Regions from separate parts of the Homo sapiens genome. Here region 2 is linked to region 1. A link means that fine-mapping ties the variant in region 1 to the expression of a gene that starts in the linked region. Tissue or cell type: testis. Region 1 holds a variant in brackets; the other region holds the start of a gene. All regions are shown on one strand. Distances are between the middles of the regions.

Region 1 (8,107 bases):
ACTTGGGCAACTTATTTAATCTTTCTGAGTCTTAGTTTCAACATTTGTAAAAAGGACATTTGTAAACTCCTAATCCACAGATTAAGTGTTAGCAGAGTTTGGACCAAGGACCGAAAACTGAAAACAAGAAGTGTCAAGCACCACCACGTTTTCAGGCAGGCTTTTGGCCATTTCCACAAGACTTGCAGAATTATCCCCAAACCCATTTGCCGCCATTGCCGAATGAGCCAATTACTCCTCTCAAGATATAAAAGAGAATATTAATAAGATGTGCTAGAGAGGCTGCCAGGGAGAGTGTCCTTGTGGAGGGCTGCTGGGGTGCCATGCAGTTCACCCAAATGGGAGGAGGCAGGTAAGGAAAGGGGTGCCCTTCTGCAACCCACCTGCTTCAGATCAGAGAGAAACCAGAAAATATTAGAAAATGTTGGAAAACTTGAAGTGTGGAGAGTATGCATGGACTGGTGTCTCATTCATGGTTTTTGTTTTGCTTTGTTTTTTAGAGACAGGGTGTCACTGTGTCACCCAGGCTGGAGTGCAGTGGCATGATCATAGCTCACCGCAGCCTTGAACTTCTGGGCTCAGTCAATCCTCCTACCTCAGTTTCCTGAGGAACAAGGACCACAGGTGTGCACCACCATGCCTGACTAATTAAAAAAAAGTTTTTAGAGAGGGGATCTTGCCATGTTGCCCAGGCTGGTCTCAAACTCCCGGCCTCAAGCGATCCTCCCACCTCATCCTCCCAAAATGCTGGGATTATAGGTGTAAGCCACCATGCCCAGCCTCACTTGTGTTTTATAAAAAGGCTGAAAGCGAGAAGCTGTGGCTGAACTTCCCTGGAGGCAGAGGGAGGAGTGGGCTCTAGGAGGAGCTAGAAGCACCACACCAGGGGCATCACAGCGGCTATGACTTCCATGGGCCAGATGGCCTTGATCTGGGCCAAAGAAAGAAAGAAGGAGACTCCATCTGAGAAGACCATCTTGGGAGGAGGGGAGGTGGCAGCAGTAATCCCCACCTACAGGGAGTCAGAGTGGATAGAAGTTGAAGAGGCCAACCCAGGAATGATCATTGGTTGTGCCCAATGGGGCTGTCCAAGATCCCCACAAGAGGGACCCAGGAGACACACAATCCATATGTGGCCATGTGCCACACTTGTGTGGGCAGATTAGCACTGCCCCAGTCAAAGACAGCCTTTTCAGCCCCTCAACACTTCTCCTCTCTTCCCTTGAACCCCAAAGGAGCACAGTAAGTTCGGGGAAAGGACTAGTGGAAGACAGATGAGGGGATAGGAAGGAAGTTAACTGTGGCCTGGCCACACTGTAGACCTCCTAGCTGGAGGCAGGATGCGTCTAAGGAGAGGAAACACTGTGGTGAATTGGATGTGGGTTGGGGCTGGGTGCGGTGTCTCGTGTCCATAATCCCAATAATTCAGGAGGCCAAAGCGAGAGGATCGCTCAGGGCTGAGAATTTGAGACCAGTATGGCCAACACAGCAAGCCTATGTCTTTATGTATTTACTTTAAAAATATTTTTTAAAATAAAAATAAAAAATAAATGTGTGTTGGCATTTCAACTATGTATCAGATTTTTTAATATCTGAAGGTGATAGGTAAATCAATGAACTCAGAAATTCATCCAAGGACAGAGAAGAGCAATTATTGGAAAAATACATGCCATGATATTGAGGAAGAATCAGGTTGGTTTTTACTGTCTCTCTGCAGAGCCCGCCTTGTACAAAGAGCCCTGGGAGATACCGGGAAAATGGGGAGGCCACACCATGGCAGAAGACTCTTTCTAGAGGGATGTCTCTGCCCTGATCTTCCTAGGGAATTTTTGCACTTTTTCTTATGGAGCCTGGAGGAGCATGATGAGTGATGGTGGCCAAACTGGTTCTGCAGAGATGGTCTGGCACCTGCTGTGGTTGAGCTTTGAAGCCTCTGCCAAACACAAGGAGGGCACAGGAAAAGTCACATTTCACACCCCGTTGCAAAAGAATAGGATGAGTTGATGTGAGCTAAGTACTATGCACAATGCCTGGCACCCAGGAAATGGTATATGGAAGGTACAGCATCTTCATTTTACTATAGACAGAATGGATGCTAAAATTCATCCAAATCTTTAGTTGTCTCTATAATCTGAAATTCCACTCTCTGATTAATAAAGTTGTCTTTAAGAAAGTGGTTTTTCATTACGGAAATGAAAATTGTGACTAACAAACTCAAGTCCAGCCTCAGTCTCAGGAGGATCCGTTATGCAAAAAGGACCCTGCCTTTTGCAACATACAACACACAAACCCACAGCGGGTTCCAGTCTCAATGGCTCACTTGTCTGACAGGATCTTCGCTCAGAAAGAAACAATTGTCAGGTTCATGTTGTGGCCTAGCAAGAGTTTGGAAAGTTCCGTAAAGAAAAATAATGTAGACAAATTTAGAACCTGCCCCAGGTGTGTTGATTTGACGCCAAACCATGGATAGGTAACTTGATTCAGCTGAACCTCGTTAAAATAATGTTGGAAAACATTACATTACTGCAACGTCCTTTTTATTTATTTATTTATTTACTTATTTTTTTATTTTTGAGAGAGAGTCTTGCCCTGTTGCCCAGGTTGGAGTGCAGTGGCGCAATCTTGGCTCACTACAACTTCTGCCTCCTGGGTTCAAGCACTTATCCCACTTCAGCCTCCCAAGCAGCTGAGATTACAGGTGTGCACCACTACGCCTGGCTAATTTTTGTATTTTTAGTAGAGATGGGGTTTCACCATGTTGGCCAGGCTGGTCTCAAACTCCTGACCTCACGTGATCCACCAGCCACGGCCTCCCAAAGTTCTGGGATTACAGGCGTGAACCACCACGCTCGGCCCATTACTGCAACACTCTAAGAAATCGGTAATAACCATGTCATTACAGAGAAGCCCAAACCTTCCTATTCTATTTGACATGCACTAATTGAAAAAAGGCACTTTGATTGCTGTAACATAAGCCTATCATCCACTGAATTAGAGTCCATAATTATTAGAATCTATTTTGATGAGCACCTGCTTTGGGGGATGAAATACTCTATATGAGGCCTCTTTCTATCTAATATAGGACTCTTTATCTTTTTAAATGGTGATTTGGTGGCAGATGACAGTCAACATGTCTCTGAATCATCATGAGTTTTTAGCATTTTACGGAACTGGTTTGGAGATTAAAACTAACATCATTTTGTTACAACAGTGGTGCTGTGTAATAAAAAGGAGAAGTCATTCGTAGAGTTCATAAACCTTTTTTTAATAATTTAGATTTTAGGCCGGGCACAGTGGCTCACTCCTGTAATCCCAGCACTTTGGGAGGCCAAGGCAGGCGGACCACCTGAGGTCAGGAGTTTGAGACCAGCCTGACCAACATGGTGAAACCCCGTGTCTACTAAAAGTAAAAAATTTGCTGGGCATGGTGGCATGTGCCTGTAGTCCCAGCTACTCGGGAGGCTGAAGCAGGAGAATCGCTTGAACCCGGGAGGCGGAGGTTGCAGTGAGCCGATATCACGCCACTGCACTCCAGCCT[G/A]GGAGGTTGCAGTGAGCTGAGATTGTGCCGCTGCACTCCAGCCTGGGTGACAGAGTGAGACTACATCTCAAAAATAATAATAATTTAAAAAAGTGAATAATTTATATTTTAATTCATTCAACAACTATTCAGTGAGGGCTATTACATGCCCATAGGTAAGTGTTGCAATAAAAAGAAGAAATTTTTACATTTCTATTTTTTAAGGAAGGCATTTTCTGACATTTATGAGTAAGGATATTCCAAGAATATTGTCATGTATCTTGTTGTTTCACAGCTCAAGCTATGGGAATGAAAATTTTAATCTGAGTTTCTAATTATTTCCCCGAGACAGCTTGAGAGAGGGGGAGGTAACTTCCCCCATCTCCTAGGTAGGTGGTAGGTAACTAACCCTGCAGTGCAGAACCAATGCTCTGAAAATGACCAGGAAAAATGCCCCAATATCTACTGCTTCCTTCTAAGTGGGAAGATGGGAAAAGAATATTGGAAGAAAAAAATCAAAGTGATTATGAGAAAATCATAAGGGTAAAAATAAAACATGAGAGAGAGGAAAAGCAGCAGCTCTATATTATTTTTTAAGTCTTGTTATGGCAGTTGGTTGCTTTTATTTTCAAGTGGGTTAACCTGACATTGTATTCACTTTGACTTTAAATGCTAGAAGAGTACATTTCAGCAAAAAGAAAAAAAAAAGGCAATGGGAAACTTTCATTGTTATAAATGAAAAGTTGGCCAGGCATGGTGGCTCATGCCTGTAATTTGAGAATTTTGGGAGGCTGAGGTAGGAGGATCACCTGAGGTCAGGAGTTCAAGACCAGCCTGGCCAACATGGTGAAACTCCGTCTTTACTACAGAAATTGGCTGGGTGTGGTGGCATGTGCCTATAATCTCAGCTACTCAGGAGGCTGAGGCAGGAGAATCATTTGAACCTTGGAGGCAGAGGTTGCAGTGAATCGAGATCATGCCACTGCACTCCGGCCTGGGCAACAAAGCAAGACTCCGTCGCAAAAAAAAAAAAAAAATATATATATATATATATATATATGTATGAAAAGTGACCGTAAACATCTAGGGAGCTGCAGGTGGAAAGAGACAACACCCAAACAGATAAACAAGTGTCTAAAAATGCTGGCAACCGAGCAAGCAAACAAAAGGCATCAGACTTCACCTTGATCCATTATCAGATCTCAGAGTCATCTATGCAATCTTCCTCCCTGAACTTTCTAAATATCCAAAGCCAAATTCCTCCCCTCCCACGTCCCTGTCCCTGGCCTCGCCATTCACACACACCTTCTTTTCCCTGTCTTGCTGTGAAACTTGGCTTTCGCCATGCACCCAGTCCCCAGGCTAACCACCACCCCCAGTACCACATTACTTTTGCTCTTCTCTTCTGGAATACTGACTTCCAAGTCTAACATCTGTCACGTGATACACCGCAATTAAATAGCCTCCTAACCAGCCCCCCTTTCTCTCTGTTCTGCTACAGAGTGATGGCTCAAAACCAAATCAGGGCATGGCATTACCTGGCTTTAAAACCACTCATAGTTCTCTCACCTGCAGAATAAAGACCACACCCTCCAGCGTGACATTCAAGTTTTTTCTGAACCTGCCTCAGCAGCGTCACAGTGATGGCGATGGTGAGATCACACACACACATTTGTACATTTATAGTAGGACAAACTTCATGACCCTCAGGAGTTACTCTTCCAGGTTTTAGCTCCCACTGTTTCCTCTGCCTGGATCGCTTTTCTCCTTTAACTGCCTGGTGAAGTCTCATCCTTCAAGTACCAGCTCCCCAGCTCTATTACTTCCTGGAAGAGAGCTCACATGGAGCTAGAGTTAAGAGTGGTTCCTGCTGACGGCCCAGCACAACAAGGCAGAATGAGTGTGTGTGTCTACAGGCAGGAGTGGCTTATGCTACTTAAGAAAATCAAAGAAACAAGAGGACATATTTTTAAAATAACAGAAATGGAAGCAAACTGAATGAATTTTTTAAAGTTGCTGGAAAGAGAAGAATGAAACATGTCACAAAATAAAGAGACAAGATGATTTCTGGTCCCTTTTTATTTTCAGATGGCTTCACTTGACATTCAGTTTCACTGTAAGCACTGGAACAGCACAAGCCAGCCTTTTATTAAAAAGAGAGAGAGAGAGAGCGCCATTTATTTCCATATTAACTAGAAACAAGCAATGAGTCAGGTGTTTAAAAAAGAACATGATTGCCTTAATATCATCAACAGTGCAACCTCTGAATGAGGATGTGGGCTAGTAAAAATAAAAATAATGATTGATACATTTTTTTCTATTTACTTATCTACAGGGATTAAAAGGATTAGCTAGATGATGGATTGGAATGTTAAAACTCTCAGAAAACATATTTCCCTAGTTACAGATACAAACAATGAAGAACACTTGTCTTTGTGTCAAATTCTAATAAATGATATTCAGGTATATTACAAAGAAGTCAAAACGCTTATTTCAATGCCAAAGGGGGAGCTGGTGAAGTAAACTGGTTGTAACCTATTAGAGTTCTCCTTTCCCATGTTCTGCAGGGAAGAAAACAAATCAGTTCATTTTCCAAGTGCAGATCATCTCCAAATGTCATGTGCAAAATTATGCTTACCTGTCTATTAAGATAAAATGAATCAGCAGTGAAACTTACATTATGTTAAAGACAGAACAGCAAAGACGAGACAAGGTATAAATTCTGAACCGTCTAGCTAAATATTATAGGAGGTGTCCTTTTCACTTTGTAGGTCCTAGCTGAAACCTGTTGCAAAAAGGGTGGTGAAGAGTTAGCTGAAATCAAGATTCCTTGGAAGGCAATCCACAATGGATTTGCAGAATGAGGTCTGCAAGGACAAAAGTCAAATTAAATCATGTCCTTTTATCACCTGGCTAGAGACTGGTCCATACCCCCTACCATTTCCTTGATTTGGTTTACACTAAGACATTTCTGGGCCTTTGCTACTCCTGTCTCTGCCTGAAATGTCCTTCCCCAACCTTCTCTGACTCATAAAATCTTATTGATCCTTTATGACCCAGTCCAAATGTCACTTCAGTGACCCTCCCACTTTGGCCCCATGTCCCTGGAAACAGCCCTCTGCATATACTTTTATTATACTGTTTATCTCTTGATATCATGGCTGTTTCCTCCTATGCCTGTCTCTCCCTCTGAACTCAGCCTGTTCCATTTTTCTGAGCACCAAGCTCAGTGAGCATTCAAAGAATGCTTGATGAAAGAATTACTAAATTAATGCATAAATGGAGATGAAATTGCTGGCCTTAAACCTGCCCATGTCATCCCCTCTCTTAAACTGTCTACTCCCAGTTTCCAGTATCCCTTTGTTGTAAGGCAAGGCCATCAGATGATTTCCAAAATAACTACAACTCCGGGATTCTAAAGCAGTTTTCTTCTGTATCAGTTAATTATTGCTGCATGACAGTCTATCCCCAAAGTTAATGATTGACTATATATCATTTCTCTATCATTTGATGTTCTTGTCTGGGCTCATTCATGAGACTACATTCAGCTGGCTGCAGTGCAGGGACCAAGATGGACTTGTCAGGAGCCTTGGATCGAGCTGGCAGCTGGGTACCTTGGTCCTCTTCCAAGCCTCCTTTCATCCTCCACGCACTAGACTAGCTTTTTTACTTGGACAAGCTCCAATGCGTGAGCAACTATCAAGCCTCTGCTACGCCATACTTGCCGGTGTCCCATTGACCGAGGCAAGTCACGTGGCCAAGCCTAGTCATTGAGGGGTGAATTAGATTCAGCCTCTTTCTAAGCAAAGTGGCAAATAATTTGTAGTCATTTTTAATCTACTACGACTTCATTGAAATCCTATTAATTTTCTTGTCACCACCATTGTAAATGGGATCTTTTTTCTATTTTGCCTCTTCCTGTCAATATTTTTACCCTTAAATGTAGGCCCTTATCTAATTTAATTGGTTAGCCCTTCCAGCTCAATGCTTAAAAAATAGTTCTGAACTTGCTGGGAATGCTTCTGCTATTAAACCACTTATAAAGTTGATCATTGATTTAAGTAAATATTCTTTACCACTGAGGGAAATATCCCTCTATTTTATTTCACCACGGGTTTTTGTTGTTGTTGTTGTTGTTGTTGTTTTAATTAGTCGTTCATGTTGAATGTTAACAAAATAGAATCTTAGAGGATCGAAAAACTGTCTATCAGGTACTATGCTTATTAACCGGGTGATTAAATAACCTGTACACCAAACCCCCGTGACATGCAATTTACACACATAAAAACCTCCAAGTGTATCCCTGAACCTAAATAAAAGTTTAAAAATTGATTTTAAATTTTACAAAAAGAATCTGTTAGTATTTTTTAATTAATATAACGGGTTATATGAATAGATTTCTCACTACCGAGCATTCATTCTGTTTTTTATACAGATCCTCCCTCTCCGGCCTCCCACCCTCAGCTGTCAAGAGATGACTATTCTGCATACAGACTGTCAATGGATTTCAGCCTTCCAGTTCCACTTCTTCCTCTTCCCCAGCTGTTAGCATCTAGTTCTGTGCTGTCCAACCCAATCACAATATGCCAC
Region 2 (8,107 bases), 300 kb before region 1:
CACGCAGACATTTTCAGGCTCTCGGGGTTCAGGCAGAGGGTCTGGTGCATCTTGAGCCGACAGGGTGCTGGTTCATCTTGCGCCCGGCTCTCTGGTGCAGTTTTGTGGGATTCAGAGGTGGGTCACAGAGCGGCTTCCTAGAAAGGCAGGACAGTTTCCTGATTAGAGATTTGCCATGCCAGACAATGGGTGCATTATCAATTAGAGTCTCACTATTTGATCAGGGAGAAGGAGGAGAAAAAGGTAAAGATTAGGATCCCATTTATTTTGGGACCCTCGCCCATTTGTCACAAGGCTCTTAAACATTCTCTGGTGGTGTGGCCTTATCAGAAGCTGTAAAAACTAAACATAGCCTTGTTGCTTTAAAGGAGTAAATAAAAGACATTTCGGTCCCCTAAAATCCTGGGTGGGGAGTCCCCTAAAATCCTGGGAGGTTTTGGGCAGTTATGGGAAGAAATCACGTAGGGTTTAAGATGAGAAGCTGGTACGTCATCCATGTATTCCCTGACACCGGGGCCTAGAGTCTGGGACGCTGACCCACAGAAACAAGAACTGTCAAGCAGTACAGCAAATAAAAACAATGGCTTTTGGAAAATAATGTTTGACCAAGAACTGTGTGAGAGGGGAGGCAGCTTTAGGCCCTGAAAGGTGCATTGTAATCCACACTTCCAACCAGGTGGAGAAAGGAATGGTTGGGAAACGGGAGAAGTGGGGTGCTGGCCTGTCCTCTAGACCTTATGCAGAGTCTGGCATCTTGAGAAATATCCCTTGCTTAATATACATTACTTGACCGTGTGCTGCTGAGGTCCACAATGCTGGGTGTTATAGGCCAAAGGGGCAAACCAGTAGTAAGACAAATTCATGGTCAAAGGTGGCTGGATAGATGATAAGAGAGAGAAGAGATTAACGAAGAGCTATTTCCAAGTGATGGCTCTGGAGAGAAGGCAATTGGCTTGCTCAAAAAATTCATTGCTTCTTAGAGTAAAACTGCAAGTAACAGTTTGCACCATGGTCCCTTGTAAATTCACCACTGAGAAGGAGCTCAAAGAGTTGCAGCCATTAACCAATTACCTTGAAATCATTCCATCAGGTAGCTGTTGTCCCAATTTTACAGGTGGGGAAACTATGGCAAACACAAGAACTTGGACCAGCCCATAGACACGGGAGAGTTTGCCCATTCTAGAAACAGAAGCCAACTTTGCAGGCGGCTCCTCCCTGCAGTGGTGATTTGCGCATTGCTCCTGGCTCTTCTTAGCCTATTTAAAATAAACTGACTTCCCATAAGGAGAATGTTCAAGAGCAAAATCTTCCTTAAGAACATAAGGGTGAATAGGTTCTCATTAAATAGGGACCATTTTGCCTTAGGGTTTTCTCTCCACTTTCCTCCCATAAGGATCTGCCTTAAGTTTGATAATCTCTAAACTGTCAACAGGACTAACCAGGTGGAATGAGCCGGGTACCCCAAAAATCATTCCAGAGTGTTTGTGGGAAGTGCTCTCTTTTATCTCCACACTCATAGACAGGGGTGTTCATTCAACAAGTGCTGAAGCTACGTGTGCCTCTTTTCCCTCCAAAGTGAAAAATGGGTTGAGGCCAGGCGCGGTGGCTCACGCCTGTAATCCCAGCACTTTGGGAGGCCGAGGCAGGACGATCGCTTGAGCCCAGGAGTTTGAGACCAGCCTGGGTAACACAGAGACACTCTGTCTTTACAAAGATAATAATTATTTAAAAAAACTATCCAGGTGTAGCCATGCATGCCTGTGGTCCCAGCTACTTGGGAGGCTGAGGTAGGAGGACTGCCTGAGCCCAGGAGGTCAAGGCTGCAGTGAGCCATGATCACACCACTGCACTCCAGCCTGGGTGACTAGAGTGAGACCCTGTCTAAAAAAACAAAAAAAAAGTTAAGAATAAAGCCCACTGCATCTTTAAGCTAAATAAATCCTCTGAAATAAAAGAAAAGTATCTTTTAGCAGTTATTGTTAGGGTCTCACAGGTCCTTTTCTTTAAGAAGACTGTTAGCTAGGTTCTTCTCCTCCTCCAAATACACCCAAGTAGCAGGTTCCTTCTTTGCCAAGTTCTCCAGAAGAGGTCACTGGGCTTCAACAAGCGGAGGAAATAGCCAGGTTTTGTCTTTCTCTTATAATCTCAGGCCACAGAGAACTGTAGCCTTGCTGCTAAGTTTTGGGAGGGGGAAAAAGCAGAGGAAGTATTCCAGCCTTCAGGAATAGGCAGTAGGTCCCTTCCTGGGACGCTGATGGGTGAAGACTGTCTACACCTTCTAGGCCACAGAAAGGACACTGTCCAGCCCACCTCCACTGCAGGCAGATGCTCCCATGCCTGCTCCGCGGGATGGAGGAAGACAGTTTGGAAACCAGCTCTGTGTGGGCTCTGCAAGTTCCCACAGCTCCTCCTGACACTGGGCTATCTGAGGAGGTGGGTGCCCAACCACTTCCTCAGGGTCTATCACAGATTCACAAAGCAGCAGTTCTGCTTGGCGACTTATTGCCTCCTCAACAGGCAAGTAAGAACACAAACTTGTTTTTGCGGAAGGGGTGACATTGGTATCAGAGGCCCTACTTTCTAAGATTCCCCAACCTTTGCACAGCCCTGTGCAAAGGGAGTGTGGAAGGATCTGGATTGCTAGCGTGGGGGAAGTTTCCTTGAGAATGTCTCATCAGTTTACGAGCACTCTTTGCTCCCATTCTCAGCTCAGAAATCCTTGGATGTTTAGAGAGGCAACTTTCATCACACGACTGCCAGGGACGGATGGACGCAAAGATTTTTAAAGGGAAGTCATTGAATAAGAAAAGAACAAATGAAGCCCTGGGCTTCCCACTGTCATTGACTCACTGCATCCTGTTAAAACTGGTTTCTCAGTCGCAGCAAACAGAATTTACCACCGCATGCAGCCAAAAAAAAAAAAAAAAAAAAAAAACCTCTTTTCCCGTTGCACTTCTGTGCCTGGAATTATCTCCTATTTGTTTTAAGTAAAAGATGGTGAGAAACACAAGTGGCACCCACAAAGCCTTGCCTCGCCTTGCCTGGTGCAGCAGTGCCAGCTCTCCACAGCATGGGGAAGGCACTTCGCAGCCCACATTCCTTACTTCTGAGGGGAGGCAGCCCCCAGAATTATGCAAATCCTCCCCATTTCAGTAGGAGGCTGCAGTGTCAGATTAGAAAAAAGAGCTCAGCATTCTTTCTGATCCAAGTCATGAAAAAAATGTCTTTGCCTCTGCAAACTTCTGCACTAGATTTGTGGCTACAGTTTGCAAGACTGAAGCTGTCAGATACACTCCCACCCCATTTCAAAAAAGAATCTGAAGAATCAAGGTGGCCAGATCTTTAAGATTAAATATTTTGGCCCAAAATACCCCCTCAGACTTACATCAGAAGTTGCTTATGCCTTATTCTGAAGTGACAGAATTGCAGAAAACATTCACCTAAAATTTTTTTCTGTATGTTACAGTTAAATTAATGCAACGCCAGTAAAAGGAAAGAAATATGTGTGGAAAGTGTCTGAACTTCAGCACACTCCACTGGCCAGGGCTGACCAGGCAGAAAGGAGAAAGTGACAACTTTACCACCCACTAGCCCCCTGCCTCCCTACTCACGCAGAGGGTAAATTACGATATTCACCCAACTTTTCCTTTTCTTTTTTCTTCCTCCAGTGCTGGAGGAAAGAAAATCTCAGAGGGAGGAATGTGGTTTTGCACCCACTACAGTCGAAACCAACCAGACCTCAGGAGAGAAAAATAACTGCGGAATTCCCTAGGGCTTTCTGTCAAATTTTCTTCTCAGAAAGGGAAGGGGAGAGGAGTTGTTAAGAATAGTTCAGGCCAGTGATCAGGAAAGCCTTCTGAGCCTGACTCCGCACTGAATGCATCGCCAAAACTCCTCGCCCCTAGACCATTGGGCTTTGCTATCGGCTCTGCAAAACCATGTGCAGGGAGAGCTTACCTGAGAGAAACGCACACACCGTGAGCTGGCGCTCTCCGCTGCGAATGCCCGGCCGCCTCCATGCCCAGCAGAGGATTCTATGTTCTAAGTGTGTGTGTCCCCGGATACCAGCAAAGGTTAATAACGTGCTCACAGCATGCGTTTCAGAGGGCTCAGCCAGGGCTCGGGGAAAAGGGCATCATCTCGTTGCCTCTGGAGCCCCGCTGCTGCATACCCTGCACCCCCAAACCATCCCCCCGGGTCCTGGTCCCAGCAGCCAGGCGGCCTTCCGTCTCTCCCCCTTGACAATACTCTAGCGGTGGAAAGCAGTCCTCAAAGCGCTTCAGCCTCCGGCCGCAGACAGAGCAGCAAGACCAGAGAAACCATCCTAACAGTCGGTCCTCCCTCCTGGAACTCGTAGGAAAGTTTCCCCGTTTTAAAGAGCGCGATTCTCGAATGAATCAAAAACACCCTCCAGCTCCTCGGTCCTCCCGGCCGGGCGCCTCCCTGCACCTCGGGCACCACCCGGGGCTCACGCGGCCCCGGCACTGCCCACTTCCCGAGCGGTCGCCTGTCACCCCGGGGGTAGCCCGCTCGGCGATCGCAGCGCCCCTCCAAAGCTCCCCTCTGCGACCACGCTCGCCAGACAAAAAGAGGCCGAATTTGGAGAGCGCGTCGCGGGCTCACCTCTGGGCTGCGCTCCCCCGGCCCCTCCGTCGGTCTCCGAGCCGCCAGCCGCCCGGCCGGAGCATTGTTCGCAGAAGGTCTGCGCGCGGTGCGTGCCCGGCCGCGGGCGGGTGGCTTCTGCCTGGGCCCGGCGGCCGGGTGGCAGCTGTGAGCGCGGCTCCGCCCCCTCCGCCTCCGGTGACGCCGCCCGCCCCAGCTCACGCCGCACCTCCGCAGTCCCTGCCGCCGCCCGGCCCCGCCTGGCCCGCGCGCCCCGCCGCCCGGCTTGCGCCTGCCGCTCCCACCCGGCGGTCTCCTACCCCCAGGGCCCCGACTCCTCCAAAGTCTCCAGGCCCCGGGACTCCCTCTCTTGCCCACCCTCCCGCCCCGGACCGGCAGGCTCCGCCCCCAGCCCCAGACTTGGCGCGGGCTGACCCCCGAGCCCAGCACCCGTTTGCACCCCCTCCTCGGTGGGGACCCTGCACAGCTCTGGAGGGGCGAGCTCTGGCGTTGCAATCCTCCTTTTGCCATCATGCGTGTATAGGTGCCCGGCATCACTTCATCCAGCCGGCCCTGCGGGACCCTGGGAAGAGAGGGAGAAGGAAGGGGAAACGAGGAAGTGTGGGGTCGGGAGTGGAATACAGGTCAGGGTCCGAGGCGGGCTCTGAAAGCCACGTGAGCACAGCGAGCCTCAGCTCTCCCTACCTCTGGGAAGAGGGTGGCGCCGGAGGGAGCAGGGCTGGAAGTCCCGGTGGCGGATTCCAGGTTCCGCTCAGTCCCTGGACTGCAGGATTCTGGCAAATTGCTTAACCTCTTTGAACTTTAGTTTTCTGGATGTAGAATGCAAGCGTTGCACTGCAGGGACCTGGCCTTCTACCATGCTGGGACATCCAAGTCTTCCGCAGGCCAGTAATACACCTGTGTTTACACCGTTTCCAGTGAGTCATTCACTGAGATAGAACGAGTTCGAGATAGTCCTCGGGCTAAAAAAATCTTTTCACTGGGAGTATAATAGCTTAAGACCCAGTCAGTCCTGTAGCTTGACCTGGGTGTTTACTCGGGGAGCCAGGGCTATGGTCACCTCCCAGGGCCATGCCGGGTGGGAAGAATTCAGTGAAATGGAATAGGAAGAGGACCCCCCTCCCCCACAAAACAATACCTGCGGCTTCTCTCGCCCTCTATCCCCTCCCCAGGAAGGCAGTTTATTTTGACTCCAGTGAAGGTCCTCTGCCAGTCAGCCTGCGAGCCCCCACCCACTGAGAGGAGGAAGATGGGCCCCCACCCCCACCCCCAGATCCCTGGCTCTCCTCTTTGCTGCTGTGGGTGTGGACAGAGAGGGAAGATGTGTATTTGAGGTTTGGCTTCTGTGTGAGGAAAGGGAAAAAAGGATCCAGGGAATTCTTCCTCATGTTCCAGTGACACCCATGCCTCCTAAGAGGACAGAATCTGGGGGAAGCTGTAGAGGGATGGGAGTGCAATGGACATTCCTTAAGGACCTACCCAGCGCTAAGCAATCCTATGAGGAGAGCATCATTATCCCCATTCTACAGATAAGAAAACTGAGGCTCGGGGGCCTCACAATTTGCTGGGGTTCCTCAGCTGAAAAGTGGTAGTACTAAGATTGGAACCAAAGGCTGTCTGGCTTCGCTGGTAGGCAAGTCTACTCTGCCACTCTGCCCTTGCCAAGTGCAGGTAGTCCAGCCCTATTTTTCTCTCTCCCCTAAGTGGAGAGAAATCATTTGAACAAATACTGGCCGTGCGCGGTGGCTCACACCTGTAATCCCAGCATTTTGGGAGGCCGAGGCTGGCAGATCACCTGAGGCCAGGAGTTCAAGAACAGCCTGGGCAATGTGGTATAACCTCATCTCTACTAAAAATACAAAAATTAGTCGAGTGTGGTGGTGGGCGCCTGTAATCCCGGCTACTCAGGAGGCTGAGGCAGGAGACTCACATGAGCCAGGGAGGTGGAGGTTGCAGTGAGCTGAGATCGCACCACTACACTCCAGCTTGGGTATCAGAGCAAGACCCTGTCTCAAAAAAAAAAAAAAAAAAAAAAGGAAGGGAAACTTTGGTTACACTTCATGAGCATCCAACAGAGCTGAAAGATCCAGACCCTACCAAGACTCAAGAGGGGAAGATGTTGATTAAACAGGTAGGTACAAAGTGGTCTGCAATGGAGAAATACAAAAGTGACTTCAGAAAGTGTGCAATTCATTTACACTGGGAGAGGGCAAACTAAGATGTTTGAGAAGTTCCTGGTTCTCAGGATTCAGGCTAAATGTTTCACTTCTTTCCTCTGTAAGAGAGACATTGACCTCACAGAATAAAGGCTGTGCTGAACACATAAAAGAAGCACTTACTTTTGCACTTTATTTTCTTCTCTTTACCTAACTTATTCTTTTTTTTTTTTTTCCTGGGATGGAGTTTCATCTTTCAATCAGGCTGGAGTGAAGTGGCAAGATCTTGTCTCACTGCAGCCTCCACTCCCCGGGTTCAAGCCATTCTCCTGCCTCAGCCTCCTGAGTAGCTGGGATTGCAGGCGGCCACCACCATGCCCTGCTAATTTTTCTATTTTTAGTAGAGACAGCATTTCACCATGTTGGGCCAGGCTGGTCTTGAACTCCTGACCTCAAGTTATCTGCCTGCCTCGGCCTCCCAAAGTGCTAGGATTACAGGTGTGAGCCACCGCGCCCGGCCCCTAATTTATTCTTAATACATGAACAGGCTAAAGAGCATAATTATAAGAGAAAGCCATAATGTGGCAAGACTTGTAGTTCTGTGGCATGGGGCAGTACTTGAAGGGTAAATTCAGTGTGTCTACAAAATAAAGTGTGTTCTTAAGTGGTTTGCTGTGCTCACACAAAGTAAATGCATTATACTGTAGTTGCTGACATATAATGTGCATCTTTTTAAAAGCCAGCAACATGGCCATAGAGACGACTTCATCTTGCCTAATGAAAAGAATCAAGAAACACTTCAAAGGAGTCACTGGGATGCACATAAAATACCCACACTCTTAGGCAGTGCTCTACCAGTGACTGTTAAGTATATGATATCCTCAGTCAAGCTACGGTAAGCTCATTCATTTTCATAAAGAATTCTTGCTTGAACTTCCAAACTGTACCCTGCAATGCAGTGTAATTTGTGTAGACACAGCATTCTGCTTCTAGCTACTTATCAGTCCATTTTTATGACACTTTTAACTGCAGGGCGTGGGCTCCCTGATACAGACCAGACCTTGAAGAACAGCAATTCCTCGTCAGAGTTTTAGTCCAGCGGCACCATTCCGTACAAGAGCAGTTATATTTTAGGAAACTGGGACAAGAGGTCAAGGCTGGGAGTGCTTCGGGGTGAGTAAAGTAAGGTAGTTTGGAATTAGGCAAAATGGCAGGATTAGGAAGGATGTGCCATTAAATTATACTGCAAAAATACAAGCTGGGGTATTGGAGAGGGGTCAGATAGTATGAAGATTGAGCCAAAGAAATCCCACACATATTATCTCCTC

The links. PIP is the estimated chance that this variant, and not a neighbour inherited with it, causes the effect.
Region 2: it holds the start of PRAG1, and the variant in region 1 is fine-mapped to the expression of PRAG1 in testis (GTEx, PIP 0.97).

The regions. Positions count from the first base shown.
Region 1 is chr8:8,680,480-8,688,586 of GRCh38, forward strand. LOC105379225 (a long non-coding RNA gene) reads right to left here and starts at 6,794. Exons shown (of 3, transcript XR_948927.4): 1 at 6,427-6,794; 2 at 6,195-6,302; 3 at 5,582-5,660. The variant G/A (reference allele first, on the strand shown) is at 3,539.
Region 2 is chr8:8,381,698-8,389,804 of GRCh38, forward strand. PRAG1 (PEAK1 related, kinase-activating pseudokinase 1) reads right to left here and starts at 4,742. Exons shown (of 6, transcript NM_001080826.3): 1 at 4,624-4,742; 2 at 1-137. The coding sequence starts at 50. LOC105379222 (a long non-coding RNA gene) reads left to right here and starts at 7,867. Exons shown (of 3, transcript XR_002956679.2): 1 at 7,867-7,952. RefSeq lists an enhancer at 1-406 and a silencer at 4,445-5,124.